Linked DNA regions of Homo sapiens. The protein of the gene in region 2 purifies or fractionates together with the protein of the main gene of each other region. This does not show direct contact. Each region holds a gene or a part of one and is shown on either strand. Other genes may lie near its edges.

Evidence for each region. The genes of interacting proteins can lie anywhere in the genome.
Region 1: the proteins of SLTM (region 2) and KNOP1 purify together in Homo sapiens (affinity purification with mass spectrometry, with the first as the bait; one large-scale study listed by BioGRID). This does not show direct contact.

Annotation. Positions count from the first base shown.
Region 1 is NC_000016.10:19,704,833-19,708,227, forward strand, and holds part of KNOP1 (lysine-rich nucleolar protein 1), read right to left. Parts: intron 2,390-3,395; coding exon 2,078-2,389; 3' UTR 1-2,077.
Region 2 is NC_000015.10:58,892,180-58,895,679, forward strand, and holds part of SLTM (SAFB-like transcription modulator), read right to left. Parts: intron 2,404-3,500; coding exon 2,254-2,403; intron 2,015-2,253; coding exon 1,911-2,014; intron 1,809-1,910; coding exon 1,642-1,808; intron 1,186-1,641; coding exon 1,100-1,185; intron 882-1,099; coding exon 718-881; intron 1-717. UniProt on the Homo sapiens protein: When overexpressed, acts as a general inhibitor of transcription that eventually leads to apoptosis.

The DNA.
Region 1 (3,395 bases), on a different chromosome or scaffold from region 2:
GTAGCACATACTTGTCCAACTATTGACCTGGCCAATGCTTGCGGATCAGGGTTCAGAGCCAGGGAAACTGCCTGAAGTGCCTGCCTCACCTCTGCCCAATGGGCAGCTGTGGACACCATGGCCACTTCACCAGCATCCACTCTTCTTGACTGAAGGGAATCACCAGCCTTCCCATGACAGGGGCGGGTGCAGCTATGGGCAGATGACTCATTGCCCAGCAATGGAGGCTTCTGGAAGTTTCCTTGAGACACAAAAAGGCTTTTCTTCCTCTGGAATGTTCTAGGGTCTTGATATGCTGCCTGGAACTGTTACTGCCATCTTTGTACTAGCCTTGATGAAGCCAACACTGGAGATGATGGAGAGAATGCTTCCTTGGCGAGCTGTTGAACCAGGCCCTAATCAGGCCTTCCTGCCACGTGAGACTGAACTTTCTGGCCATCGAGGCCTGCCTGGGCTGGGATGTCTGTAGGAGGCATGTTCAGGCCAAACGATCGTGAAAATGTCCCAGTCAGAACCTGTATTTTGGGATGCAAAAAGCTAGGTGAGTGGAAAGAAGGTGGTCACAGATGGTCACATGCGACTTGGGCCACTGGACCTGGAGCTCTTTGAGGCTTGCTGTAGAGTCCAGGCTTGGAAACGCTGTCCCCACAGCCGATGAGGCAACTTCCCGTGTCATCTCCACACGTTCATCTCCTCCTGGCATTCAATATCCACCTACAGAAGTCACCTGGGATTCTCTTCCTTGTGATAAAAAAGAATCTCATCAGACACATCCCTGGGGCTGGGCACAGTGGCTCACACCTGTGATCCCAGCTCTTGGGGGCTGAGGCAGGAGCATGAGTTGAGTCCAGGAGTTTGGGACTAGCCTGGACAATATAGTGAGACCCCATCTCTACAAAAAATTTTAAACACTAGCTGGTTGTTGTGGTGCACACCCACAGTCCCAGCTACTTGGGAGGCTGAGGTGGGAGGATCACTTAAGCTGGATAGGTAGTGGTTGCAACAAGCCGTGATATGCCACTACACTCCAGCCTGGGTGACAGAGTGAGAGCCTATCTCAAAACACACACACACGTCCCTGGGATCTGCCATTGATTCATTTGCGGGACTAACCACTCTTCCTAAAATGCCTTGTTCAGAATCCAGTCAAAGCACAAAAATCCTACCTCAGCACTTAGGGCCGAAGGGACACCAGTGGAAAAGGCAGGACTGGTTTAGAGGCACATTTCCCAGCAGCAGCAGCTCAGTCACATGTGTTTGGTAACAACTCAGACACCTCTCTGCCTACAGCTGCTCTATGACAGGGGAAAGGAAAAGGAAGGAAAAGGAGTTTGCGATTCTCCGTTCCTCATTCACTCCACTTTTTATCAGAGATGCAGACTTGTCATAAAACTTTTTCCTCCATCTAAAGACATTTCAATCCCCAACGAGGATTCTGGTGGAAATTCCCTAAAGGGGACATTCAGAGTGGCGAATAGTGAACTTAGGGCTTCGGGTACAAAAGTACAACACCCTGCACTTAGTGGCTGGGTGACCCCAGGCAATTTTATTACTTTATCCCTGAACCTCAGTTGCCTCATCTATAAGATGGGGCTAATAATAGCACCCATTTCATAATTATGAAGATTAAATACATTAAGGAAAACACTAGTATGTCCCTAGTACCTGCTAAACACTCAACAAAAGTTAACTGTACATACTGATGTCTCAAACAGGGACGGAATGTTTAACACAGAAAACAGGAGGTTTTAGCACTCACTCGTTCTCCTGGCTCCCGAAATATGAGCTGCCCTGCCCCAGTTCATCCAAGCCCATCAATATAGTTGTCCTCGTCCTTAATCTCCACAGGTGTTCAATGTGAGCCAACTGTCAGATGGCTTTCATTTGCACAACTGAATAAACCATTTATGCCTAGTGTTCCATTACTGGAACGCTAAGCTTATGGGAGTTATTTATATCTTACTGCTCGAGGTCCTCACCAAGATCTGATTTTTTCACAAAAAAAATTTGTAATCTCCAGCATAAATGGAATAATCAAAGCAATTGTGGCAGTTTTGGGGGGACAAAACTCTAGAGTTTAATCTTCCAGCTTGACTGACTTGGAAGCGTTCCTGTCAATGTAAAAGATCTTGTTGGGGGCGGTGGAGAAGCCGAGGCCGGCTCCCCGGCTGTACTTCCAGCTCATGGCCCGGTCGTAGTCCCGCTGCAGATTCTGCTGCAGGCTGTCAGCCGCCTTCTTGCCGAGGGCCATGTTGGGCCTTGCAATCGTGCTGGCGGGGCGGCTGAACGAAGGGGACAGGTTTTTGAAGCCACCCATAAGTCTGAGAAATTTCAGTTTTTGGTCCTCGTTCTCAAAACCAGCAGTATCCCACTGGCCAAACTGGGTTCCCTGTGAGGAGAGGAAAAAGGTGGCTATTTTCCTTGAGTTCAAAGCCCTTTCCTTCCCTTGACCCCCACCCTCATCAGGGAGGGCCCAGCAGATTAGATGGCTGCTGTGTACCAGGCACAGTGCTAATAAGCTCAACAACGGATTATTCCGTTAATCCTAAAGACAGCCCTATGAGAAACACTGTTGTTATTCCCATTGCACAGAGGAGAAAATAGAGGTCTGCAGCTTAGCTGGAGACAGAAACCTAACTAGTGACCCCCAGAATTCCAGCCCAGGTCCAGCCAACACCACTGCCCACCTCTGCACAGAGCTGCCTTTCTGCCTTCCTCCTCCTTTCCTAACTCATGGCACACGGCACAGTGTGCCTCACTTCACAACAGCGCACTCCCCCCACCACCCTACACTAAGCATTTCCCCCCACCTCCCTACACAGTGCACCTCCCCTCCCCCACCTCCCTACACAGCACACTCCCCCACCACTCTACAGAGCACACTCCCCCCACGACCCTACACAGAGCACTCCCCCCACCTCCCTACACGGCGCACATGGCGCACCTCCTCCCACCACGCTACACAGCACACTCTCCCCCTACCATCCTACAAAGCGCACCTCCCCTAACCACGCTACACAGTGCACTCCCCCCACCACCCTACACATCGCACTCCCCCCACCTCCCTACACAGCACACTCCCCCACCTCCCTACATAGCACTTCCCCCACTCCCTATACAGCGCACCTCCCCCCACCTCCCTACACAGCGCACCTCACCCCACCATGCATCTCACAAGACAGCACACCTCCCCCACCTCCCCACAGGGCGCACCTCCCCTGCAACACAGGGCACCCCACAGCCCAGCAGCCGGGCGCACTCACCCAGCAGCCTAACGTTTGGGTGAATTGGAGGGTGGGAGAGGGCGAGTGGGAATCTGAAGTGTGCTTCTCAGAAGCACTGTTTTATGGCGGGAACGGGTGCGGGCCCACAGGGGTAAAAGGTCACACAGCCAA
Region 2 (3,500 bases):
ATAATATACTATAAAACACACCCACAAGACTATTTTAAGTGGCATCCAAAAATTGATATACAAAAGTAAACTGACACTCGTGAACTGTTGAGATATGGCCACTAAAAATGGAAACATCTTGCTTTGTTTATATTTTCCGTTTGTTTTAAAGAGAATGCTTGCTTTGGGATATAATCCGAATACCATTAGGCTCACAGGGCAAATCTTCCTTCTCTTAGGCACTAATGCAAACAATAAATTTTTGCTAAATTTGTTAAAATTTCAGATTACAGTATTTGAACACTGTAGCTACTTTGAAACTATCTTATCTCAAATTTTTCCTTTGAAGTCATGTTTTTTATGGCAGCAGCTTTGGTGTTGAGGAAAGAGCATTGGACTTGGAGTCAGAAGACTTGGGTCTGAGTCCCGACTCTGCCACTTGTTAGCCATGTGGCCATTGGAAGAGTCATTTAGCCTCTCTGGGCCTCCATTTTTTTCAATTGTATAATGGGCATAACTAGCCTTACAGAACTGTTGAGTTGGAGACAACAGATGGAAAAGCACTTTGTAAATTGTAAAGTGCTATGCAAACTTAAGAAATCATTAGATGCTACCGTAACTTCTTTAAGGTGGCAAACAGTTTTCTGTGGGAATACAATTTCCAGAAATATGGCTTACAACTAGTGTTAAATATTTACCTATATTTAAAGACAGGTATAAAACAGACTCTCTTCCTACCTTCGAAGTTCCATTGCTCGTCGCAGCCTTTCAAAACGAACTAAATGTTCTCTCAACCTTTGTTCCTTCATCTTTTCAAAAGGCAAGATCTCTTTCCTTCTGTAGTCTTTATCTCTTTTTTTATCTAGACTAGCTCTCTCCTTTTCCTTACTTCTTCCATGAATCTGTAGAAAAAAATTAGAAGAACACTAGAAATTAAAATATTTTGGGGCTTTATTTTTCAAGTTTAGTAGGTCATTTAAAAAGTTCAAATGACTAGTAACATTTCCTTTTTCTTGGGTTTGCTAGCATGCAAGTACGCAAAGATGGTTATGGAAAAACAGAATTATCTTCTTTTGTAAACAGCTGAAGTAGTATACAACCATCCTGATCAGAGACTTACTTTCTCATATCTTCCTCTTCTTGATGGTCTACAATGATCTCCTTTAGTTTGGTCTAGTATTACCATATGTCCTGGACTCTTGGAACCTAAGGGAAAAAAATTATATAAAACAATGTCTAAAATTTTTCATTGAGAAAGAAAATATGTATGTAAAAATGCTAAATTCTGATAGTCACACACCAATACATGAAATAAAAAAACTACTTATTCTACAAGAACTTCAATGCAAAGAGTTTTTTAAACAGTTCAGTCTGCTAACATAAATACTTTCAGTGATACCAAAAGATCCTAATTCAATAGTACTAATCAATGACCATTTTAAGTCAGCCCAGAATAGCAAAGGAGCTTAGCTGGAAGAATACATTTGTTTGTTTCCCCAGAGTAGAAAAGAAGACAATTACTCCTACTAGACCTCCTTTCCTACCACAATGACACCTAACAACAAAGCTTATATCTGGATTAGAATTTCAGGTTTTCCCTTCCACTGTAAAAATTAAGTAGTAGAATGCATTAGAAAGGGATTGAAAAGATGTATAGCATACTTATTCGCTTCTTTTCTTCACTTTTTTTAATCGATTCTGATGTTTGGCCACTTGCTCCATTATCATTCTTCTCATCTTTACCTTCTATTTTCTTAGTATCCTTGCTTTCTTTTTTTTCAGATTTCTCAGACGATCTTTTCTCTTCTTTTTTGACAGAGGCTTGTGTCCTGACCATACCGCCCCAGACAAAAAAACAGAATGAGTACTTCATAATGTACCAAAAAAGTCTATCTGCTTATCAAAATAAATAAATAAAAATAAATCCTTACTTGCTACTTCTATCACTCGTATTTTTTTTATCTCCAGAACTTCTTGAACTACTCTTTTCATCATTTTCTTTCTTCATTTCTTTCTTAGAGGGATCACCTTTTACCTGAAAGGTTCGAACCAGAAAAACAATTTGTACATATGGTTACATTTTTGTGATTATAAGAAGTGTGCTAATGGCAGAAAATTTGGAAACGATAGGAAAAATATAAGGAGAGTAAAAACTACAAATACATAAAAATTAAAAATCACTGCAAATTCTACTCCCTGCTACTGTTAACAGCTATGAGTTGAGAACTAGCCATCAAATTAGACTTGCTTTGATAAACAGTTAGGGAAGCTTACTTTTTCAACAGAAATCAGCTGTCCATGCAGCTCAGTGCGATGAAGATGTGCAATACACCTGGACACCTCTGTGCTTGAAGACATAGTTACAATGCCATAGCATTTTGCCCCAGGACTTCGAGCATTTGTAACTACTTTTGCACTCAGAACCTATAAAATCAGACTGTACTTTAGAGAGTTTTACAACGTTCCAAGTACACAGACTTCTAAATACATGAAACTTCACAACTGAAACTATATATTAATTCAGGGTGTATCTTATTCTGTCTCATGTTTTTTTTTTTTTTTTTGAGATGGAGTCACACTCTGTCACGCAGGCTGGAGTGCAGTGGTGTGATCTCAGCTCACTGCAACCTCTGCCTTCTGGGTTCAAGCAATTCCCCTCCTTCAGCCTCTCAAGTAGCTGGGATTACAGGCATGCACCACCATGCCCTGCTAAGTTTTGTATTTTTAGTACAGATAGGGTTTTGCCATGTTGGCCAGGCTGGTCTCAAAGGCCTGACCTCAGGTGATCGGCCTACCTCGGCCTCCCACAGTGCTGGGATTACAAGCATGAGCCACTGCAGCCAGCCTATTTCATATTCTTGTGATCACCATCTACGTTACCCATCTTAGTAAATATTCAGGGGAACAATTTAAAGTGCCAAAAAGCAATTTAACCTTTTTATATTTATTTCCTCCCCTCAAATATGTAGCCAAAACACAATCTCATCAATGAAGTAATGGCACAATTAATAAAAGCAAATAAATTGGATTTGAACCAAAATATCCCTATCATAGGCCCACCCTGAATGTCTTTAGAGAAAGTTTCTAGTATTTTATTGATGAGTGTTAACACTTTTCTATAATGAGTAAAGAACCAATCACATATAAAAAAGCGGACTTAAAAATGCATCCCCCGAAAAACACCCTAAAGCTTGAAAGACAACACTTTCAATCTATGTGCTTTTAAAACGTATATGAACATGACAAATAATTGCAATTGTGTAAGATGGTTAGTTAAGAGAGACAAAGCAGGGATGGATGAGTGAGAAGAAAAGAGAGAGAACGATTCGGTGCTGAACAAAGAAGAGTAAAGACATAAAGCTGGGAAGAAGTAAACAGGAAAATCAGGAGTTTTATGGTATGGGTGGCTGGAACAAATCAACTTTTACCTCAACCCTAGGAAAGGCTGATTTGCTCCATAGCCATTTATTTTTTAACTCCACGGGTCTTCTTACCAAATAAATGGTATCCTCATATAGTTT